Regions from separate parts of the Homo sapiens genome. Here regions 2 and 3 are each linked to region 1. Evidence: fine-mapped expression QTL. A gene starts in region 1. Each other region holds a variant in brackets. All regions are shown on one strand. Distances are from middle to middle. Region 1 holds the start of MRPL15 (mitochondrial ribosomal protein L15). Region 2 has its middle 20 kb from the start of MRPL15. Region 3 overlaps LYPLA1-TCEA1 (LYPLA1-TCEA1 readthrough).

Region 1 (8,176 bases):
AAAAAATTAGCCAGACGTGGTGGCACGCACCTGTAGTCCCACCTACTCAGGAGGCTGAGGCACGAGAATAGCTTGAACCTGGGCAGCAGAGGTTGGCAGTGAGCTGAGATCGCGCCATTGTACTCCAGCCTGGGAGACAGAGTGAGACTCCATCTCTATTTAAAAAAAAAAAAAAAAAAAAAAAAAAAAGATCTTCCTGATATGTTGACATTCAAGCAGAGAACCAAAAGAAGGGGGCGCCGTGGGCGGTGGCTCACGCCTGTAATCCCAGCACTTTGGGAGGCCAAGGTGGGTGGATCACGAGGTCAGGTGTTCAAGACCAGCTTGGCCAATATGGCGAAACTCCATCTCTACTAAAAATATAAAAAATTAGCCGGGTGTGGTGGCGCACGACTATAGTCCCAGCTACTCAGGAGGCTGAGGCAGGAGAATTTCTTGAACCCAGGAGGCAGAGGTTGCAGTGAGCCGAGATCGTGCCACTGCACTCCAGCCTGGGCAACAGAGCGAGACTCCATCTCAAAAACAAAAACAAAAAAAAAAGAAGGCAAGCTTTACAGATATGCAGAAGAGCAGCATTCCAGGACCAAGGGACAGAGCCCTGCCATGATAGTATGACAGCTTTCCAAAACCACAGCTATCACCACTACATAACAGTTATAAACACAAATGGGCTAAAAATAAAGGGGGTAGAGTACTGATTATCTGGAAATCAAAAATATCTCCTACGGGCCAGGCATGGTGGCTCACACCTGTAATTCCAGCACTTTGGGAGGCCGAGGTGAGCAGATCACTTAAGGTCAGGAGTTCAAGATCAGCCTGGCCAACATAGTGAAACCCTGTCTCTACTAAAAACAAATAAAATTAGCTGGGCATGGTGGTGGGTGCCTGTAATCCCAGCTATTCAGGAGGCTGAGGCAGGAGAATCACTTGAACTTGTGAGGTGGAGGTTGCAGGAGCCGAGATTGCGCCACTGTACTCCAGCTCAGGCAACAGGGCAAGACTCTGTCTAAAAAAAAAATCCTCCTATATAACACCAAAAGATCTAATCAAGACTTACCTCCTCAACCAGCTGGACACCATAATCCCTTTTAAGTGGCTGGATGGTCACACCTCTCCCATTGACAAGCTGGGTTAAGTCAATAGGTTGACTAGGATCAACACGACCCAAATCAATAAGATACTGCAGTCTATTGAGACTCAAAGGCTTATACTGGCGTCTGAAACTGTAAAACAAGAATGTAAGAGTTGGAAAACTCTCATCTTCCTGTAACTTCTCGAAATCAACTCAAAGCTTTGTCTTGTGTTTTCCTCCACCAATTTTATTTAACTAAACAAAACCCTCTTGAGTGTAACACAAACATGTAATACTGCTTGATTTTGGGTAATGAAAACAAACCTGTACCACCTTTGTTCCACTAAAAATTATTTCCCTCTCTAAGCATTTACTTCACTTATTTACACAAATAAATCTGTGGAAAATTTAACTTACTATGGAGCTCAAAGTAATAATGGTAGTTATCATTTATTAGGTGACTACAGTGGGCCAGATTTTTATGTATACTGTCTATTATTGCTCACTCTTTTAATAACCATTAGAGCTGGCATTAGAATCTCCATTTTGCAGGTCTAAGTGCAGTGTCTGGGCCTCTTTTCCTTTTAATAATCCAGGCAAGATTTCATTACCAAAAAATGGTTCAGGGGAACAGTAGCAAAAGTTTGCTTCAAAGTGAATTTACAATTTCCACCAAAATTTCTACCAAACTATTTTTAGGTGCTTTTTAATGGAAATTGGGGACCTGTACTTTAAAAAGCAAAGCAACCTTACCTATGTCCTTCGTTAAACCCGTATTTTGGGATTCGGATGTAAAATGGAGTCTGGCCTCCCTCAAAGCCCAAGCGGGGCCGGGTTCCTCTTTGCCTTTCTCCTTTATGGCCTCTGCCACATTTTCTACCTCTTCTCCGACCTCTTGGTCTTCTCTCCTGCAAGGAAAAAAAAGAATTTTATGAATTTCAGATGCATTTCTAAAAACTGCATTTCAGCTCTTCACTTTTTGTTATGCTGTTCATTCATCCAGCCCACCAGTGCTAGCTAACACTATTGTGTCAAGCATGTCCTAGTTGCTCAAAGCTCCACACACTCTGTTAGCATCTTTGCCTCTAAAGACATAGCTAATTCTTGTAACCAAAGTCCAAGTGTGTTTCAAAAGCAAAAAGTAAAGGTTAGGATGGGGATAAGGTTTTTATAATAGGTTGAAACCGAAAAAAATCCTAGAATTAAATATTCACAACATTTTAAATGATAGGCAAGAATTTATTCTGAAATTAATTGTAAATATGCAAATGTTATTCATAAACCTGTAATTTTATTTGAAAACTGATCTGTTGAAGAAAATCTTTTCCTTAATTTCCTGTCATTTCACGAAAGCAATGAACTGACTGTTAAAATGACAGTACATTGTCAACTAACAGCTTTTCTAGCTCTATTTAGTCAACTGCAGAAGGGACAGCTGCAATTCAGATCTTTCCAATGAACATAAAGATACACCGGGAAAACATTTCATTTTAAATCCAATTTTGAATGACACAAAGACTTTGTAGTTTCAGCGAGTCGGCTTCTCCGCCTGGTATCTTTACACTTGTAAACATAACCTTATTAAGAACTGGGTGCGGCCGGGGGCGGTGGCTCACGCCTGTAATCCCAGCACTTTGGGAGGCCGAGGCAGGCGGATCGCGAGCTCAGGAGTTCAAAACCAGCCTGGCCAACACGGTGAAACCACGTCTCTACTAAAAATACAAAAATTAGCCGGGCGTGATGGCGGGCGCCTGTAATCCCAGCTAATCGGGAGGCTGAGGCAGGAGAATTGCTTCTGGGCGACAGAGCAAGCCTCCGTCTCGGAAAAAAAAAAAAAAAAAAAAAAAAGAACTGGGTGCACGTGGAAAGATTCCCCTCTGGGCAGTAAGGGAGAACAGGCATGAGGCAATCCTATTTTCATCCCAACACTCTCCTAGAAAGGGCAGTTCTCCTAATGACAGGGAGAGAAGGGCCGCTTTCATCGCCCGGGTCCCCAGCGCTTCCCCGCACCGCCACCACCCATTTACCGGTTTCTTGGAGCCGGGATTCGGCTTTAAGTTGGCCAGGCTCACACGCGGCAGGCCCCGGAGTAGGTCCAGGGCCCGGGCCCCACCGCCCTGCAAGGGACCGGCCATAACCCGCAGATCCAAGAACTTTCAAGGGCGCCCTGAGCTGCTCGGAGGCCACGTGGTCTCGGGGGCTGCTTTGTGGCCGTGGCCCCGCCCCTGTCGCGCTGCAGCCGCGCGCGCAAGCCCGGGAGTCGGGCAGAGGCGTGGGAGTCTGCAACCTTGTCTCGGTTGTCCTTTTAGTTGTTTGGGGATGTGATCTTATTTTCCGAGATCCTGCTTTGTCCTCGGGGTCCCTTTTAATATTCTGAACGTAAAACCTTCTCTTTCGCCAAACGAGAGCATGCACTAAAAACACTGCGTTAAATAAAGGATCTTTTTTGAGTCAGTGTTGGGCCTTGCCTGTTTGTCTAGGCCGTGTCTTCTCTGAGGTCAATGCAGAACCCAGAGTAAAGCAAAGTGAGCTGTCAATTATTAGCTTTTGAGCTTGCGTAATTATACACCGTGAGGTACGAAAATAAAACTGAGTGCACCTATCAAAATGCCTGGCTAATAACCAATCTTTGAATAAGACTCAAAGTGTGAACTCTCATCCGTGTGCATCTGTATTGTTTTGAGTGAATCGCAGTTAGTAACCACCTATTGTTAATGACTGGCGCCATACTGAATGCCTGGTGTATGCCAGACGCTGTATTAAATAAGCCTTACTCGATTTACAGCCATTCTAGAGGTAAATGGTGTTACTACATTTTACAGTTACAACAGGGAAGGCTTAGCAAGGTCCGATAGCTTGACCAACTTCTTGCAACAAGCGGCAGAGCCAGGATTCAAACGTACACTGCTTCCTACTATAAAAGTAGTATTTTTAGAATGTAAAATTGAGTATCTGCATCACAAAATACGAACATTATTACTCGAAAAATACCAGCTCTTCTTTTTTCTCTCAAGTGACTTAAATATAGAAAAGACTGTTCCTTTCTTTTTCTTTCTTTTAGTAGTGGTTTGACATTTCACTTGCTGGGGAGTTTTTTCTGCTAGCTCTAACTAGTAATCACAAATAATGAAGGTGAGACAATTTTTGGAGGGCGTCTGTCTCTAGGTATAACTGCGTCTTTTTAAAGTTCCTTTAAATCAAGTGTAAAATAACTACATAAAGAAAAAGTTGTATTCATTCCTTCAAGTACTATTTATAAGTAAGACACTGAACTTGTTGGAAATACACATGGATGAACTCAAATAGGATTTCATTCCCAAGTTGTTTGAAATCTAGTAGGGAACAGTTTCCAAAAGTGAATTATTATTATTATTATTTTGAGACAGAGTCTCGCTCTGTTGCTTAGGCTAGAGTGCAATGGTTCAATCTCAGCTCACTGCAACCTCTGCCTCTCTGGTTCAAGCAATTCTTCCGCCTCCGCCTCCTGAGTAGCTGGGATTACAGGCGTTCACCAGCACGCCCCGCTAATTTTTTTTTGTATGTTTAGTAGAGACGGGTTTTCGCCATGTTGGCCAGGCTGGTCTCCAACTCCTGGCCTCAGGTGATCCCCCTGCCTCGGCCTCCCAAAGTGCTGGGATTACAGGCGTGAGCCACGGCGCCTGGCCCGTGAATGTTTTTTAAAAGTTAAAGATAAAAGTAGGCCTCTTGTAGACTAATTAGCAAAAACAAAATATGTGAGTTCGATAAAATGATATGATGGTAAAGTCTAGACTCTATTTAGAAGCACAGAAGAAATAGAATGGGGTGTGGGGGGCAATAGAACCTATTTTCTGCCTTTAATGATTTTTGGTTTGTTTGTTTGAAATGGAATCTCACTCTGTCGCCCAGGCTGGAGTGCAGTAGCGCCATCTCGGCTCACTGCAGGCTCCTCACCCAGGTTCAAGCGATTCTCCTGCCTCAGCCTCCCCAGTAGCTGAGATTACAGGCATGCACCACAACGTACAGCTTTTTTAGTTTGTTTGTTTGGTTGGTTTTTTAGTAGAGACTGGGTTTCACCACGTTGGCCAGGCTTGTCTGAAACTCCTAACCTCAAATGATCCACCTGCCTTGGCCTCCCAAAGTGCTGGGATTACAGGTGTGAGCCACTGAGTCCAGCCTGCCTTTAGTGATTTTTAATTCAGTAGTTTTCATTGTGTTTTTATTAAACTTTCCTACCTTTGGGAAGAAAATTGCAAAATATAATTGCAAACTGTACCCTAATCTACAGAAAAGTGCACAATTATTTTCAATCCCCAAAAAATCATTGTTTGCATTAAGTAATGAACTTCTTGATTAAGTGTTAATGCCAGTAATGTTTTTTATCATGGAAAATTTTTTTATTGAATAAATAAAATACAAGAAATATGCTGCACTTCTTGGAAGTAGAAGTCGTATGGGTTATATAATGTTATTGGTGGACATCAGTTAATAATAATGGGAATAACAATTGTTGACAGTTAATTGTAGGCTACGTGTTTGTTTATCCCATATCCAACATGTTGATTAAGCATATAAAACTGTCAAAATAATTTGATGAGTTTCGTTTGTGTTGTAAGAATGTAAATTAAGGGTGTGTGGTCAATAAGTCAACAATCCTTACCTTAAGTATATAGTAGTTTTATGTCATCCTCATAATTGCACAAGTCATATTTATTACCCACCTACATGCTTGGGATGTGCTAAATCCTGTTTAAATCAAGTTAACAAGAACTTGTAATAAAAACATTAATATCTCAACAACTATTTAAGGTCCATCCTGATTCCAACCCCAGTTGATAATAACTGCTGAATCATTACATAATAACAATGAAGCCGGGCGCAGTGGCTCACGCCTGTAATCCCAGCACTTTGGGAAGCTAAGGCAGGCGGATCACCTGAGGCTGGGAGTTCGAGACCAGCCTGACCAACATGGAGAAACGCCATCTCTAATAAAAATACAAAATTAGCTGGGAGTGGTAGTGCATACCTGTAATCCCAGCTACTCAGGAGGCTGAGGCAGGAGAATCGCTTGAACCCCGGAGGCGGAAGTTGTGGTGAGCCAAGATCACGCCATTGCACTCCAGCCTGGGCCACAAGAGCAAAACTCTGTCTGAAAAAAAAAAAAAAAAAAGAATGAAGTGATACAATTTGAACTGCTTTGGAAGACTTCACACACTGCCACGAAATCTTCCCCAATCTATATATATATCAGCACCTGACAGTGTGTTAACATAGATTAATTCCTTTGAGTTAATTATTTTTCTAAAAAAAAGTTTTTTTGCCGGGCGCGGTGGCTCATGCCTGTAATCCCAGCTCTTTGGGAGGCCAAGGTGAGCGAATCACGAGATCAGGAGTTCGAGAACAGTGTGACCAACATAGTGAAACCCCGTCTCTACTAAAAATACAAAAATTAACCAGGCATGGTGGCATGAGCCTGTAATCCCAGCTACTCAGGAGGCTGAGACAGGAGAATTGCTTGAAATCCCAGGAGGCAGAGGTTGCAGTGAGCCAAGATCAGCCTGGGCAACAGAGCGAAACTCCATCTCAAAAAAAAAAAAGAAAATTTCAGGATTAGCAGAGAAGGGGACTGGGAAATGAAAATAAAAGGGAATAGGCTGGACACAGTGGCTCACACCTGTAATCCTAGTAAACCCAGAAATTTGGGAGGCCCAGGTGGGTGAATCACTTGAGGTCAGGAGTTTGAGACAAGCCTGGCCAACATGGTGAAACCCATGTCTACAAAAAATACAAACATTAGCTGGGCATGGTGGCAGGTGTCTGTAGTCCCAGCTACTCAGGAGGCTGAGGCAGGAGAATCACTAAAACCCAGGAGGAGGAGGTCGCAGTGAGCTGAGATTGTGCCACTGTACTCCAGCCTGGGCAACAGGGCAAGACTCCTCTCAAAAAAAAAAAGTTGAGCAGAAAATAACTGGAGAAGCAATATTCCTAAGTGAAGGTGGGAGAAAGCCAGAGGCAGGAGAACAATGAATCCCTTTGATATTGGGAGAAAACTAATATTGAGAGAAGGCTATGAAGAGGGCATGGAAAGGGGCTGGAAATAAATGTCCCCTTGATAAAACTTAACTAATTTTGCCTTGATAAAACTTGGTTCCAACCTAAAGGTCTTTATTCACACCTAAATAGGTTTTAATTTTATTGAAGTATTGTAATGCCTACATATGTTGAAAAAATCAGATAGTACAGAAGGGCTTATAATGAGAAGTAGTTGTTTCCTATTCCATTTCTAGTTTCACTCCCATAAGCAATCACTTTTAATGTTGTTTTTGTTTCTTCTAATGATTGCCTCCTTGTTTACAAATTAATAAAATGTCTACTTCACTAATTTTTTTATCATTTCTTTTTTTTTTTTTTTTGAGATGGAGTTTTGCTCTTGTCACCCAGGCTGGAGTCCAATGGCACAATCTCGACTCACTGCAACCTGCGCCTCCTGGGTTCAAGTGATTCTCCTGCCTCAGCCTCCCACGTAGCTGGGATTACAGGCACCTGCCACCATGCCTAGCTAATTTTTGTACTTTTAGTAGAGATGGGGTTTCACCTTGTTAGCCAGGCTGGTCTCCAACTCCTGAGCTCAGGTGATCCACCTGCCTTGGCCTCCCAAAGTGTTGGGATTACAGGCTTGAGCCACTGAGCCTGGCTCATTTTTTTTCCTTGAGACGACAAGTTTCGCCCTATCACCCAGGCTGGAGTGCAGTGACCTGATCACAGCTCACTGCAACCTTGAACTCCTGGGCTCAAGTGATCCTCCCACCTCAGCCACCTGAGTAGCTGGGGCTACAGGTATCCGCCACCATGCCCAACTAATTTTTGTAATTTTTGTAGAGACGGGTTTTTGCCATGTTGCCCAAGCTGGTCTTGAATTCCTGGGCTCAAGCAATCCTCCTGCCTCGGCCTCCCAAAGTGCTGGGATTACATGAATGAGCCACCACACCCAGCCTTTTATCAATTTTTAGCATTGTATATTCTCTTGTCTTATGATAAATGAAGATTTAGGTAATTTAAGCTATTTCTTCCTAAAATTTTTCTTCTCTCGTGGTAAACTTTGTAATTTAAATTATGTAATCTAAG
Region 2 (8,188 bases), 21 kb before region 1:
ATGCAATGGAATATTATTTAGCCATCAAAAGGAATGAAGTACTGGTTCATGCTACAACATTGGATGAACCTTGAAAATATATTAAGTGAAGGAAGCCAGACACAAAAGACCACATAGTGTATGATTTCATTTACATAACATATCCAAAATAGATAATTCTGTAGAGATAGAAAGCAGATTAATAGGCTGGGAGTGGTGGCTCATGCCTGTAATCCTAGCACTTTGGGAGGCTGAGGCGGGTGGATCATCTGAGGTCAGGAGTTCGAGACCAAATTGGCCAACATGGTGAAACCCCATCTTTACTAATAATACAAAAATTAGCTGGGCGTGGTGGCAGGCACCTGTAATCCCAGCTACTTGGGAGGCTGAGGCAGGAGGCAGGAGAATTGCTTGAACCCAGGAGGCAGAGGTTGCGGCGAGCTGAGATCACGCCATTGCACTCCAGCCTGGGTGACAAGAGTGAAACTCCGTCTCCAAAAAAAAAAAAAAAGAGAAAGAAAGCAGATTAGTAGTTCCCAGGGGCTGGAGGCAGGGAGAGATGAATACAGACTGCTTAATGGCTATTAGTTTCCTTTTGGTGTGATGAAATGCTTTGGAACTAGATGGAGGAGGTGGTTGCACAACACTGAGAATGTATGACATTCTGCTGAATTGTTTTCAGTTGTCAACTTTATGGTATATGAATTTCACCCCAAGGTTTAAAAAACTTCTGTGAAGATGAAATGTCTTTTACCTTGTTTCCTACAGCCTTTCTTTGCTTTTTTGTTCCAAAAAGGTCTTTGAGATCTCTGTAACGCAATGCTTCCTTCAGGCACAGCATCCTGATGCACGCTGCTCCCTTTGCACAGAAGGATTGCTCTCATCGCCTCACTGGGCTCACTCTCAACCCTTGTTTTGTCACTTCTAAAGGAATCCTTCCCTGATTTCACTTACTAAATCAGATTACCTTCTTGTATGCAGTCGTGTCCCACATAAACACCATTTCCAGCACTTATCTTCATTGCAATTTTATATTCATTTGCGTGAACAACTCTGCTTTTAGACTATCAACTGCATGAGGGCAAAGACCATGTATTTTATTCAGCATGGAAGACCCAGAGTTTGGGACTTAGGAGGTACTCAATAAACAAGCCTTGGAATGATTAATCAAATAAATATTTGAAAATTATCTGCACAGTGCCTTGTAGGCCAAGCAGGGCAGATAATCTGAGGTCAGGAGTTGGAGATCAGCCTGGCCAACATAGTGAGGCCCTGTCTCTAATAAATATATAAAAATTAGCGGGGTGTGGTGGCACACACCTGTAATCCCAGCTGCTCTGAAGGCTGAGCCAAGAGAACTGCTTGAACTTGGAAGGCAGAGGTTGCAGTGAGCTGAGATCGAGCCACTTGCACTCCAGCCTGGGCAACAGTGTGAGACTCTATCTCAAAAAAAAAAAAAAACAGTTCAAACATAGAATAACCATATGACCCAGCAATTCCACTCCTAGGTATATACCCAAAAGAATTGAAAGCAAGAATTCATGGCCAGGTGCGGTGGCTCATGCCTGTAATCCCAACATTTTGGGAGGCCGAGTCGGGGGATCACCTGAGGTCAGGAGTTCGAGACCAGCCTGGCCAACATGGTAAAACCCTATCTCTACTGGAAAAACACAGAAAATATTAGCCGGGCATGGCAGCACATACCTGTAATCCCAGCTACTCGGGAGGCTGAGGTAGGAGAATCGCTTGAACCTGGGAGCTGGAGGTTGCAGCAAGCCGAGATTGCACCACTGCACTCCAGCCTGGGTGACAGAGTGAGACTCCATCAAAAAAAAAAAAAGCAAGAACTCAAACTTGAAAACCAATGTTCAGGGCAACATCAACCACAGCAGCCAAAAGATGGAAACAACCCAAATGTCCCTCAACAGAGGAGTGAATAAATAGAATCTGGTATATACATACGATGGAATATTATTCAGTCTTAAAACGGAAGGAAATTCTGACAGGTGCTCAAGATGAATGAAGCATGAGACATTATGCTAAATGAAATAAGCCAGTCACAGAAGGACAAATACTTCTGATTCCACTTAAATAAGGTATCTAAAGTAGTCAAATTCATTGAAAAGGAAAGATGAATGGTGGTTGCCAGGGACTGGGGGAGGGGAGGAAGAAATAGGGAGTTGTTGGCTGGGTGCGGTGACTCACGCCTGTAATCCCAGCACTTTGGGAGGCTGAGGCAGGTGGATCGCCTGAGGTCAAGAGTTCAAGACCAGCCTGGCCGACATGTTGAGAACCCCGTCTCTACTGAAAATACAAAAAATTAGCCAGGCATGGTGGCGGGCGCCTGTAATCTCAGCTACTAGGAGGATGAGACCAGAGAATCACTTGCACCAGGAGGCGGAGGTTGCAGTGAGCCGAGATCGTGCCATTGCACTCCAGCCTGGGCGACAGGGCGAGAATCCGTCTCAAAAACAAAAAAAAGAAAAAGAAAAAGAAAAAGAAAAAGAAAGAAATAGGGAGTTGTTTGTTTAAAGGGGTATAGAGTTTCCATCTTGCAGAGTTTCCATCTTGCAAGATGAAAAAGTTCTGGATATCTACTGCACAACAGTGTGAACATACTTAACACTATTGAACTGCACACTTAAAAATGGTTAAGATGATATTTTTTGTGTGATTTTGTTTGTTTGTTTTGAGACAGAGTCTCCTTCTGTCTCTCAGGCTGGAGTGCAGTGATGCAATCTTGGCTCACTGCAACCTCCACCTCCCAAGTTCAAGGGATTTTCCCGCCTCAGCTTCCCAAGTAGCTGGGATTACAGGCGCCCGCCACCATGCCCAGCTAATTTTTGTATTTATAGTAGAGACGGGGTTTTGCCATGTTGGCCAGGCTGGTTTTGAATTCCTGACCTCAGGTAATCTGCCTGCCTCAGCCTCCCAAAGTGCTGGGATTACAGGCATGAACCACCACATCCGGCCTTGTGTGATATGTATTGTACCACAATTAAAATTTTTTTAAATTTAAGAATGAAATTTTGATACATGCTGTCATATGGATGAACCACATGAACTAGGTAAAACAGGCCAGACACAAAAGGACAAATATCATATGGTGCCACTTATATGAGATACATAGAATAGACAAATTCATAGACAGAAAGTAGAATAATATAGTTACAAAGGGCTGGGGCAGGAGAAAATGGAGAGTTACAGTTTAATTGAATGGAGTTTAGGTTTGGAATGATGAAAAAGTTCTGGAAATGGATAGCAGTGATTGTTGCATAACCTTGTGAATGCACTTAATGTATATCATGCACTTAAAGCGACTTAATGTACACTTACGAACGGTTGAAATTGTACATTTTGTGTCATGTAAATGTTACTATAATAAAAACATTTAAATCATTTTAATGTACTATGTGTATATAACAACTGTTTGTCTAGTATCCAAGAACATAGGCCAGGTGCAGTGACTCACACCTGTAATCCCAGCACTTTGGGAGGCTGAGGCGGGCGGATAACCTGAGGTCAAGAGTTCGAGACCAGCCTGACCAACAAGGTGAAACCCCCATCTCCACTAAAAATACAAAATTATCCAGGCATGGTGCATGCCTGTAATCCCAGGTACTTGGGAGGCTGAGGCAGGAGAATCGCTTGAACCTGGGAGGCAGAGGTTGCAGTGAGCGGAGATCGTGCCACTGCACTCCAGCCTGGGCAACAAGAGTGAAACTTCGTCTCAAAAAAAAAAAAAAAGAACATTGTCTCTGGAGCCAGTTGACTTGGGTTTAAATCTTAGCCCTAATACTTCTTTCGAGCTAGATGTCCTCATACTAAATACTTGACCTCTCTGTGCCTCAATTTTTTTCAACTATAAAATGGCATAAATAAAAGGGTCTGGTGAGGATTGAATAAGATGAACAGATAAAGCTTTTAAAAACTCCTATATATATGGATGCTCGATAATCATCAGAATTATCTTTATAAAATTTCAAGTACATAGAAGAATATGAAGTCTCTTACATACAAATGGCCAAGAAGCTATTCTCATTCCACATGTTCCACATCATTATTAGTGAAATGCAAATCAAACCCACAATGAGAAACCATTTCGTGCCCACTAGAATGGTTATCATCAAAAATGCAGATAATAACAAATGTTGGCAAGGATGTGAGAAACAGGAACATTCATTTCTTGTGGGGGAGTAACATGGTGCAGCCACTTAGGAAAACAATTTGGCAGTTTCTTTAAAAGTCAAACATGGGCCAGGCATGGTGGCTCACACCTGTAATCCCAGCACTTTGGGAGGCTGAGGCAGGTGGATCACTTGAGGCCAGGTGTTCGAGACCAGCCTAGGCAA[C/T]ATAGTGAAACCCCATTTCTACTAAAAATACAAAAAAATTACGTGGGCTATGGAGGTGCGCACCTGTAATCCCAGGTACTCAGGAGACTGAGACACGAGAATCGCTTGAACCCGGGAGGCAGAGGTTGCAGTGAGCCAAGATGGTGCCACTGCACTCCAGCCTGGGTGACACAGTGAGACACTGTCTCAAAAAAAAAAAAAAAAGTTAAACATAAATTTGCTAATCTACTCAGCAATTCCACTGCTAAATATATTCCCAAGAAAAAGAAAAACATGTTCACATAAAGACTTGCAAACATATGTTTACAGTAGCATTATTTATAATAGCCCCACCATGGAAACAATCCACATGTCCACCAACTGATGAATGCATACACACTCCACACGATGGAAAGCTAGTTGGCCATAAAAAAGAATGAGGTACTGGAACATGCCACCACATGGATAACTTTCAAAACATTATGCCAAGTGAGGTCGAGCATGGTGGCTCACGCCCATAATGCCAGCACTTTGGGAGGCTGAGGCAGGTGGATCATGTAAGGTCAGGAGTTCAAGACCAGCCTGACCAAAATGGTGAAACCCTGTCTCTACTAAAAATATAAAATTAGACGGGTGTGGTGGCAGGTGCCTATAATCCCAGCTACTCAGGAGGCTGAGGCAGGATAATCACTTGAATCCAGGAGGCGGAGCTTGCAGTGAGCTGAGATCACACCACTGCACTCCAGCCTGGCGACAGAGCGAGACTCTGTCTCAAAAAAAAAAACTTGATTTATGAACACTTACAGAGGCACTTATGTGTCAGGCATTATGGTAAGTGCTTTACAAATATTGACTTCTTTCAATCTTCATACCCATATGCATTAGGATTAATCATCCCCCATTTTTCAGATGGTGAGACTGAGGCAGAGATATTAAGTAACATATCAAGGTCACACAGCTAGTCTTGGCATCTGAGCCCAAGTAAACTGCTCCAGGTGGCTCTGCAAACTGGCTGAGCTTCGTGTCTCCCCGCAAATAACCTCACTGGGTCTCCCAAACACAGAAGCACAGAGGTGGGTATGATTATCTCCATTTCACATGTGAGACAGATGAGAGCACAGCAGTTATGTGATGTGCCCGAGGTCACACAGCTGCTGTCAGAGCCTGGATTCAAATCCAGGTTTGGTGACATGGAAGCTGTGCTACTTCAACCATGCTATGTCTTTTCAGTAAAGCATCAAAATGCAGCCATTCTGGGATCTGTGCGAACATCAGAGAGCGCACTTTTTTCTCTGACACGAACTAAATTGGGTTACACTGCTGTTATCTGACATCTTCCCCGGCTATGGTAGAGCCACTCTCATTGTCAAAGAACAGAGAGTAGCATTTTTAAAAAAGAAAACCCGGGAACTCAATAGACAGGAAATCCCTAGCAATTATTTCTCTAAGGAGTTAAAAAAATATTTTAAAATCCATATTAACTCAATGGATTGGATGCAAACTAGCCACATATACTGGAAGCCACATACCACGAGAGGACTAAAATCTAGACTGAAGCATTCTTACTTTTATTCTTAGATTTCCAAGTAATATGAACCCTTAACAAGATAACAATACCATCTGCTAGCACACTCTCTGCCCCATTATCCTTGTACACGGCTGAAGGGCCATGGTATATCAGCATCATAGAGCCCAGTATTGCTGCGTAGTTACAATGAACTTGAGTCTCCCGGCTATACAGCAATTTGAGGATTAACTTTATTAAACAGAATAGACAGATTTTGTGGAACGTGCCTGTTTTGGCTGAGAACTTATCTGCACGATTCTAATATTGAGACCAGGATACAGCTGTTTGTGACTAAGCCCATGCTCACTGAGTAAGTACTATCTGAGCATTATTCATCACCAGACATCTGTTTCCTGTTTTCTTTCTTTCCTTTATCATTCTTTCCCAATTTCCTTTCACCTGTAGGCCACCTAAGACAACCACAGTGAAGTAAGTCTAATGTTTGACTGTCTCTTTTCCCTTCCGTAACTGTTGTTAGGGTAGTGTAGTCATTCTACTTGGAGGATGGGGGAGGGAACCCAAGGGTCACTCTGAGCCTGGAAGGCTGTTGCCTGTGCAGTCTATCTTTAGGTGACTAACTTCCTCCCTTGTTCCCCATTAAGAACTTTTCCTGTTGAGGCAGTACCAGCCCCTCCAAACATACAATTGTGAACTGAATCACAAATGGAAAACCTCCTGTGGCACAAATAAGGCAAGGCAGTAACTTACCTAAAGCAAAGCCAGTACACTCTGATATGAAAAAAATGGAACCTCTTACATGAATACAGAACACAGGATGTGTTTAAATTTAAGGAAGTTCATTTCTATGCAAATAGGTTGAGGTCAGAGAAGTTTTCCTCAGCCCAAGGGAACATCTTTATCATCAGTGTATTACAACAGACTTTAGAGGTCATTTTACACAGTCCTCATATTTTACAAAGCTTGTCATTGTATTTTACAGTCTAAAAGATGAAGTGATTTGTCTAATAGATTCCATTTTAAATGGCTTAAGAATAAGAGAGCGCAATTTAAATACCCCAATAATGAATATTCAGAAAATGTGTTGTATGAAAGGAGAGAAGGTTAGCCCTCCCCTTAACAAACACAGAGTTCCTGGCATCTCACTATGTTTTTATCTTCATCTCACTGTACTCTAAGAATTCTTCTTTTTTTTTTTTAATTTCAGCTCACTGCAACCTCCATCTCCCAAGTTCAAGTGACTCTCCCACCTCAACCTCCCAAAGTAGCTGGGATTATAGGCACGCACCACCACACCCGGCTAATTTTTGTATTTTTAGTAGAGACGGGTGTTTCACCATGTTGGCCAGGCTGGTCTCGAACCCCTGACCTCAGAGGTGATCCGCCCACCTCTGCCTTCCAAAGTGCTGGGATTACAGGCGTGAGCCACCACGCCTGGCCAAAAACACATTCTTTGTACCTTGGCGCTTTTCTTAGCAACCTTCTTTGTATCTTATCCTCTCTTTTCCTCCCTATGTTATATGCAAATAGGACTTTTGAAATATTTAAGGCCGGGCATGGTGGCTCACGCCTGTAATCCCAGCACTTTGGGAGGCTGAGGCGGGCGGATCACGAGGTCAGGAAATCGAGACTATCCTGGCTAACATGGTGATACCCCGTCTCTACTAAAAATACAAAAACAAAACAAACAAACAAACAAAAATTAGCCGGGCGTGGTGGCGGGCGCCTATAGTCCCAGCTACTCGGGAGGCTGAGGCAGGAGAATGGCATGAACCTGGGGAGGTGGAGCTTGCAGTGAGCTGAGATTGCGCCACTGCACTCCAGCCTGGGCGACAGAGCGAGACTCCGTCTCAAAAAAAAAAAAAAAAAAAAAGACACTTTGTAAAATATTTAACATAGGAAGATGGCTTTATTATTAAAAATGTTTATTAAAAGCAGGCATAGAACAAAGTGAATGCTTCTTCTCAGATGGTTTCCTGTGCTTTGTCATTGTTACGGGAAAGGGGTCCCGATCCAGACCCCAAGAGGTTCTTGAATCTTGGGCAAGAAAGAATTTGGGGTGAGTCAATCCATAAAGTGAAAGCAAGTTTATTAAGAAAGTAAAGGAGGCTGGGTGCGGTGGCTCATGCCTGTAATCCCAGCACTTTGGGAGGCCGAGGCAAGCGGATCACAAGGTCAGGAGATCAAGAAAACATCCTGGCTAGCACCATGAAACCCTGTCTCCACTAAAAATACAAAAAATGAGCCAGGCGTGGTGGCAGGTGCCTGTAGTCCCAGCTACCAGCTACTCAGGAGGCTGAGGCAGGAGAATTGCTTGAACCTGGGAGGCAGAGATTGCAGTGAGCTGAGTTCG
Region 3 (8,188 bases), 64 kb after region 1:
CTCTGTCGCCCAGGCTGGAGTGCAGTGGCACGATCTCGGCTCACTGCAAGCTCTGCCTCCCGGGTTCCCGCCATTCTCCTATCTCAGTCTCCCAAGTAGCTGGGACTACAGGCTCCCGCCACCACACCCAGCTAATTTTTGTATTTTTAGTAGAGATGGGGTTTCACCATGTTAGCCAGGATGGTCTCAATCTCCTGACCTCGTGATCCGCCCACCTCGGCCTCCCCAAAGTGCTGGGATTACAAGCATGAGTCACCACACCTGGCTGCTTTCTTTCCTTTTAAAGAGACTATTTTAATTGATTTTGATCACCTCTACTCAAAACTATCCTAAGGTCCACATTAGGATTAGTCTCTAATAATCTGAAGATATAATTCAATTGTTTAAAAGAACATATTAAGAAGACTTTGGTAGAATTACATGTATCAAGAAACACTGGACTTGGGCACAATGGAGATATGGCTGACTTTTGAAAAAAGAAGTAGTTTTTTGGGGGAGGGCAGGGCAAAGAGGTAGGAAGTAGTTGGTACTATAAGGAAATGTTAGAGACTATTTTGGAAATGTATTCATTATTTTAAGGCAACTAACAAATGGTCATCTTTCTGTTAGGACATTGTAGCAGCAGCCTTTACTGGTCATGAAATTTGCATGATATCTAAAATTATACTTCTGTAAATAGGTCAGTGTCGATTAATAGTAACTTTGTATAGAAAAGCAGATGCCAGCTGGCATAGAAGTGGCAGTGTAGATGCTGGTAGTTCTGGAGTCCTGGAAGCTATGAGATGCCATACATCACAAGGCCATCACAGCCAGGTAGATAAATGGCTGAGGAAAGCAGCGGAGCTGGCCGTGCCAGCATTTACAAATGGAACACTTCTTGGGCAGCCAGGTGTCATGGGGCACAGACCCACAGTTCTCTTTGCACACATCATGCTCACAGTTCCGTCCATAGAAGGAGAGGGGGCAGGCACAGAAGGACCCCAGCATGCAGGTTCCCCCATTCAGACAGCAGGTTCTGTTTAGTTCCTTACTGTCCTGTATCTCCCTGGGCGGCACAAGTTGGGAAGACCGAGGATGAATTGCAGGCTCCTCCTGGGGCTGAATGCTGTCATCTCTGAAGGCCAGGTCTCCCTGAGATGGACGCGCAAGTTCCTGATGGCCCAACCCTTAACGACCTTTTTTGACTTTTTGATGATAGCCATTCTGCCTGCTGTGAGATGGTATTTTGTTGTGGTTTTGATTTGCATTTCTCTAATCATTAATGATCTTGAGCATGTTTTCATATGCTTGTTGGCCACATGTATGTCTTTTTTTTTTTTTTTTTTGATTCAGTCTTGCTCTGTCGCCAAGCTGGAGTGTTCAAGCAATTCTCCTGCCTCAGCCTCCTGAGTAGCTGGGACTACAGGCACGCACCACCACGCCTGGCTAATTTTTTGTATTTTTAGTAGAGGTAGGGTTTCACTATGTTGGCTAGGTTGGTCTCGAACTCCTGACCTCAAGTGATCCGCCCGCCTCCGCTACCCAAAGTGCTGGGATTACAGGCATGAGCCACGACCACGCCCAGCCTGTCTTTTGAAAAGTGTCTGTTCATGTTTTTTGTCTACTTTTCAATGGGGTTGTTTGATTTTTTTTTTTTTAACAGTAAAGTGGAAGCAAGTTTATTAAGAAAGTAAAGGAATAAAAGAATGGCTACACCACAGAACAGCTAGGTGGTTTGTTTTTTACTTGTAAATTTAAGTTCCTTATAGATTCTGGATATTAGACCTTTGTTGGGTGCGCAGTTTGCATATATTTTCTTCCATCTGCAGGATGTTTGTTTACTCTGTTGATAGTTTCTTTTGCTGTGCAATAGCTCCTTAGTTTAATTAGATCTCATTTGTCAATTTTTGTTTTTGTTGCAGTTGCTTTTGGCGTCTTCACCATGAAATCTTAGACAAGTCCTATGTCTAAAATGGTATTTCCTAGGTTGTCTTTCGAGTTTTTATAGTTAGGGGTTTTACATTTAAGTCTTGAATCCATCTTGAGTTGATTTTTGTATGTGGTGTTAGGTGGGGGTCCAGTTTCTATCATCTGCATATGGTCACCCAGTTATCCTGGCACTTTTTATTGACTGGGGAGTCCTTTTTCCCATTGCTTGTTTTTGTCAGCTTTGTTGAGTATCAAATAGTTGTAGGTGTGTGACCTTACTTCTGTGCTGTCTATTCTGTTTGATTGGTCTATGTGTCTGTTTTTGTACCAGTACCATGCTGTTTTGGTTATTGTACCCCTGTAGCATAGTTTGAAGTCCAGTAACATGATGCCTCCAGCTTTGTTCTTTTTGCTTAGGATTGCCTTGTCTGTTTGGGCTCTTTTTTTGGTTCCATGTGAATTTTAAAACATTTTTTCCTAATTCCGTGAAGAATGTCATTGGTAGTTTGATAGGAATAGCATTGAATCTGTAGATTGCTTTGGGCAGTATGGCCATTTAACAGTATTGATTCTTCCTATCCATGAGCATGGAATGCATTTCCACTTGTTTGTGTCATCTCTGATTTCTTTGAGCAGCGTTTTGTAATTCTTGTTGTAGAGATCTTTCACCTCCCTGGTTAGCTGTATTCCTAGGTATTTTATTCTTTTTGTGGCAATTGTAACTCACACTTTTAAAATAAAATGTGTGCTTTTTGTACAAAAAAATCTCATATCGCTGTCATGGAGCTTCCTTGGTTCATCTTTTACTGCGTGTGTTCCATTGTGTGTGCACTCAGTCCTGTGTGTGCTTGTCCACGCCCCCACCCTGTATATATATGTACGTATATATAGATGAGTCTTTTTTTAACTCTTGAGATAAACCTGCAAACATGTTCCTATCACCTCTAAATACTCTCATGTGTATTTCCCATGCACAAGGATACTTGTACATAACCAACATACAACACTCCAAATTAGGAGATGAGCATTGATTAAACACTATATCCAGTCCACAGACTCCATTGAAGTTTTGCCAGCTTTCTCAGCTGTGTCCGTTTCCTTTCTGGCCTGAGATCCTTTCCAGGAGTATGTGTTCATTTGAGCTGTCATGTCTTGAGTCTGAAACTGTTTATCAGTTCTTCTTTCATTTCCTTTGCAGTTTTAAAGCATATAGCCACAGCCTTCAGTTCTGCATATTCTGCAGAGTGACTCTTCAACTTGAGTCTGTCTAATGGTTCCTCATGACTGGGTCCAGTCATGCATTCTTCGTCTTTATTTTTGGTACCAGTTTTATTGACATATAATTCATATACCACACAATTCACTCATTTAAAGTGTGTAATTTGATGGTTTTAGATGTATTCACCGTAAGTTTTGCAACCATCACCACAGTCAATTTTAGAACATTTTCATTGCCTCAAAAAGAAACCCTATACTCTTTCATTTGTGTTCTATTGTAACTGGCTTCTTTCACTTAACATTGTTTTCAAGGCTCATCCGTGCTATAGCATGTCAGTACTTCCTTCTCATTGTTGAATCATACTCCGTTGTATGGCTGTGCCTCATTTTATTTTATTTTATTCTTTATTTGAGATGGAGTCTCGCTCTGCCGCCCAGGCTGGAGTACAGTGGTGTGATCTCAGCTCACTGCAACCTCCTCCTCCCGGGTTTGAGTGATTCTTCTACCTCAGTCTCCCCAGTCGCTGGTACTACAGGCATGCGCCATCAAGCCTGGCTAATTTTTGTATTTTTAGTAGAGACAGGTTTCACCATGTTGACCAGGCTGGTCTCGAACCCCTGACCTCAGGTGATCTGCCAGCCTTGGCCTCCCCAAAGTGCTGGGATTACCGTATGAGCCACCACGCCTGGCCTCATTTTGTTTATTCATCCATCATTTGATGGACATTTGGGTTGTTTGCACCTTGAAGTTGCGTAATACTGCTAAAAAAGAACATTTGTGTACAAGTTTTTTGTTGTTGTGTTTTTGTTTTTGTTTTGAGATGGAGTTTCACTCTTGTTGCCCAGGCTGGACTGCAGTGGCACGATCTCGGCTCACCGCAACTTCCGCCTCCCGGGTTCCAGCAATTCTCCTGCCTCAGCCTCCCGAGTAGCTGGGTTTACAGGCATGAGCCACCACATCTGTACTGGACATATTTTTTCACTATTCTTCGGTATAGACCTAGGAATAGAATTGCTGGATATGGTAACTTCATATTTATCCTTTTGAGAACCTAAAGGTTATCTAAAGTCGCTGCACCATTTACATTTCTACCAACAGTGTATGAGGGTTCTGATTTCTCACCATACCCTTTAACACTTGGCTATTATTTGTCATTTTTACGATAACCATTCCGGTAGGTATGAAGTGGTATCTCACAGTGGTTTTGGTTTGCATTTTCTAATGACTAATGATGTTGAGCATCTTTTCATGGTGTATTAACCATTCATTTGTCTGAGAAATGTCTATTCAAGTCTTTTGCCTATTTTTTTATTGAGATGTCTTTTTTGTTTAATTCGAGGTAAAATTCACATGACATAAAACTAACCCTTTTAATGTGAACAATTCATGACATTTAGTATATTCCTTTTTTTTTTTTTTAAACGAGACAGAGTCTCACTCTGTCGCCCAGGCTGGAGTGGAGTGGCACAATCTCAGCTCATTGCAATCTCTGCCTCCCAGGTTCAAATGATTCTCCAGCCTCAGCTTCTGAGTAGCTGGGACTACAGGTGCGCACCACGCCCAGCTAATTTTCATAGATTTAGTAGAGACGGGGTTTCACCATGTTGGCCAAGCAGGTCTTGAACTCCTGGACTCAAGGGATCTGCCCGCCTTGGCCTCCCAAAGTGCTGGGATTACAGGCATGAGCCACCATG[C/G]CTGGCCAAAGTTTTTTTTAAAGTATTTTTTCTTTTCCTTTTACTTTTAGTTGATACATAATTGTTCATATTTATGGGATACTGAGTGATATATTTTGATACATGTATACAACATGTAAGAATCAAATCAGGGTAATTAGCATATCCATCACCTCAAACATTTATCGTTTCTTTGCATTGTGAACATTCAACACCCTTTCTTCTAGCATTTTGAAAATATACACTGAATTGTAGTTAACCATATTCACTCAACAGTGCTACAGAACACCAGAATTTATTCCTTTCATCATTATATTGATAGCCATCCTAGTGAGTATGAAGTGATGTATCATTGGGGCTTTGATTTATGTTTCCTTAATGACTAATGATGTTCAGCATCTTTTCCTGTGCTTTTTGGCCATTTGTATATCTTCTTTGGACAAACATCTCATCAAGTCTTTTGCATATTTTTTAATTGGGTTGTCTTTTTGTTTGTGAGTTGCAAGTTTTTTTTATTATGGATACTAGACACTTTAATTAGATGTGATTTGCAAACATTTTTCCCACTATGTAAGTTGTCTTTTCATTTTCTTCATAGTGTCCTTTGAAACACAACAGTTAATTTTGATGATTTCTAATTTATCTATTTTTTTCTTGTCGGTTGTGCTTTTGATGTTATATCTAAGAAATTGCCAGATCTGAGGTCACAAAGATGTATGTGTGTTTTCTTCTAGTTTTATAGTTTTATCTCTTACATTTAGGTATTTGGTCAGTGTTTACATATGGTATGAGGTAGCAGTCCAACTTCTTTGTATTACATGTGGATATCCACTTGTCCCAGCTACTTTTGTTAAAAAGACTATTCCTTCCCTGTTGATTTGTTTCAGAAATAAGTTTGACAGTAAATGTGAGGTTTTATTTCTGGATTTTCGGTTGATTTATATGTCTGTCTGTACTCTAGTACTAGTCTTTCTGAATGTTACTTGGTAGGAATTTTTGAGATTAAGAAGTGTGAGTCCTCTAATTTTGTTCTTTTTCAAGATTTTTGTTGTTGTTGTTATTCTGGGTCTCTTGAGTTTCCATACAAATTTTAGATCGGGTTCTAATATGTGCAAAGTCAGGTGGTATTCTGTTAAAGATTGCATTGACTCCATAGATCAATTTGAGAGTACTGCCGTCTTTAAAATATTATATCTCCCAGTCCATGAAAGTGGGATATCCTTCCATTTATATAGATTTTCTTGTATTTCTTAATATGTTTTATAGTTTTCAGAAAAAAGTCTTTAACATAGCTATTTACACATATACACATGTGCATATACACAAAACTCCTATATAATATCCTGGTTATAGTTAATGTTATGTAAGTATTGCAGTTAATACTGTTGTTACTAATCTTTTTATATGTCTTTAACACTTTGGGGGAAGTGGGTTGAAATAGAAAAATAGTTAATAGAAAAGTATTTAACAGGGGGCTGGGCATGGTGGCTCACGCCTGTAATTCCAGCACTTTGGGAGGCTGAGGCAGACGGATCATGAGGTCAGGAGATCAAGACCATCCTGGCTAACACAGTAAAACCCCGTCTCTACTAAAAATACAAAAAAAAAATTTAGCTGGTGTGGTGGCGGGCGCCTACTCGGGAGGCTGAGGCAGGAGAATGGTGTGAGCCCGGGAGGTGGGGCTTGCAGTGAGCCGAGATCGCGCCACTGCACTCCAGCCTGGGCAACAGAGCAAGACTCTGTCTCAAAAAAAAAAAAAAAAAAAATTAACATTCATCAAGACTCTTTGATGTAAGAAAGGCTGAAATTACTGGTACTTTATTCTTTAGTAGAGATAATATGTAAAAAGCATCAAGTATATGGCCAAATGTAAATAAGCAGGAAACTATATGTATAACATGATCCCTGTTTTGTAAAATGTGCATCTATTCCTTAATTGACATGCATGGGAAAAATCAGAAGGAAATGCATCAGAAAATTAACTGTTTATTCCTGGCTAGAAGGATTTGATTATTTATAATTTTTCAATTATTCCATGTTCTGCTTTGAACGTGTATGTATGTGAACATGTACGCATGAAGAAATATTAAAGTTGCTGGATTAAAAAATTTTTTTTTCTTAAGTTTTCTGTAGAGTGGGTCTTACTATATTGTTTAGGCTGGTCTTAAACTCCTGGTCTCAAGCTGTCCTCCTACCTCAGCCTCTCAAAGTGCTGGGATTATAGACATGAGCCACCATGCTCAGCGAAAGTTGCTGTTTTTATTTTATTTACTCACTTATTTATTTATTTTGAGATGGAGTCTCACTCTGTTGCCCAGGCTGGGGTGCAGTGGTCTAGTCTTGGCTCACTGCAACCTCTGCCTCCTGGTTCAAGCGATTCTCCTGCCTCAGCCTCCTGAGTAGCTGGGATTACAGGCAATGCACAAAAACGCCCAGCTAGTTTTTGTATTTTTAGTAGAGACAGGGTTTCACCATGTTGGCCAGGCTGGTCTCGAACTCTGGACTCAAGTGATCCGCATGCTTCAGTCTCCCAAAGTGCTTGTAAGCATGAGCCACTGTGCCCAGGTGAAAGTTACTGTTTTTAAATAGTGTAGTAAGCATGTAGAGATGTTAGACAACTGATTTAGTTTATTTATCTGAGGCTTTTTTCTTTTTCTTTTTTTTCTTTTCTTTTTTTTTGAGATGGAGTCTCGCTCTGTTGCCCAGGCTGGAGTGCAGTGGCGTGATCTCGGCTCACTGCAGCCTCCACCTCCTGGGTTCAAGCAATTCTCCTGCCTCAGCCTCCTGAGTAGCTGGGACTACAGGTGCACACCACCATGCCTGGCTAATTTTTGTATTTTTAGTAGAGATGGGGTTTCACTATGTTGGGCAGGCTTGTCTTGAACTCCTGACCTCAGGTGATCTTCCTGCCTCACCCTCCCAAAGTGCTAGGATTACAGGCGTGAGCCACTGCACCCGGCCAAGGCTTTTTTTCTTTGTGTAAAATGTTAATTATTTCTCTTGCCTACTTTATAAACACATTGTATAAAGACATTTTAAAAATATATCTATAGTTTGGAAGTTGTGAAGCCCTGTGGAAATATCTGAAGGGGCACACACTGCTGTTCAGAAATCTGAGAAATCATCCTTATCCCTAGGTAAAACTTAACAGCTGCTGGGTTCTTTTTAGATTCATGGTGTTGTTTTAATAGTATTGAGGGCCCACATTTTAAAGATATTTTTAGGCCGGGTGTGATGGCTCACGCCTGTATTCCCAGCACTTTGGGAGGCCGAGGCGAGCGGATCACGAGGTCAGGAGATCAAGACCATCCTGGCTAACATGGTGAAACCCCGTCTCTACTAAAAATTAGAAAAAATTAGCCGGGCGTGGTGGCGGGCACCTGTAGTC

Evidence for each region. PIP is the estimated chance that this variant, and not a neighbour inherited with it, causes the effect.
Region 2: its variant is fine-mapped to the expression of MRPL15 in prefrontal cortex (BrainSeq, PIP 0.95).
Region 3: its variant is fine-mapped to the expression of MRPL15 in whole blood (INTERVAL, PIP above 0.99).

The regions. Positions count from the first base shown.
Region 1 is chr8:54,130,315-54,138,490 of GRCh38, reverse strand. MRPL15 (mitochondrial ribosomal protein L15) reads right to left here and starts at 3,250. Exons shown (of 5, transcript NM_014175.4): 1 at 3,100-3,250; 2 at 1,826-1,980; 3 at 1,058-1,223. The coding sequence starts at 3,207.
Region 2 is chr8:54,151,611-54,159,798 of GRCh38, reverse strand. It overlaps the pseudogene RNU6ATAC32P. Among named protein-coding and RNA genes, the nearest start is that of MRPL15, 20 kb to the right of the region's middle. The variant C/T (reference allele first, on the strand shown) is at 4,332.
Region 3 is chr8:54,066,072-54,074,259 of GRCh38, reverse strand. The region is part of intron 2 of LYPLA1-TCEA1 (LYPLA1-TCEA1 readthrough); the gene reads left to right. All of the region lies in intron 2 of LYPLA1 (lysophospholipase 1), which reads left to right. It also overlaps the pseudogene CRIPTOP5. Among named protein-coding and RNA genes, the nearest start is that of LYPLA1, 32 kb to the left of the region's middle. RefSeq lists an enhancer at 2,944-3,043. The variant C/G (reference allele first, on the strand shown) is at 4,822.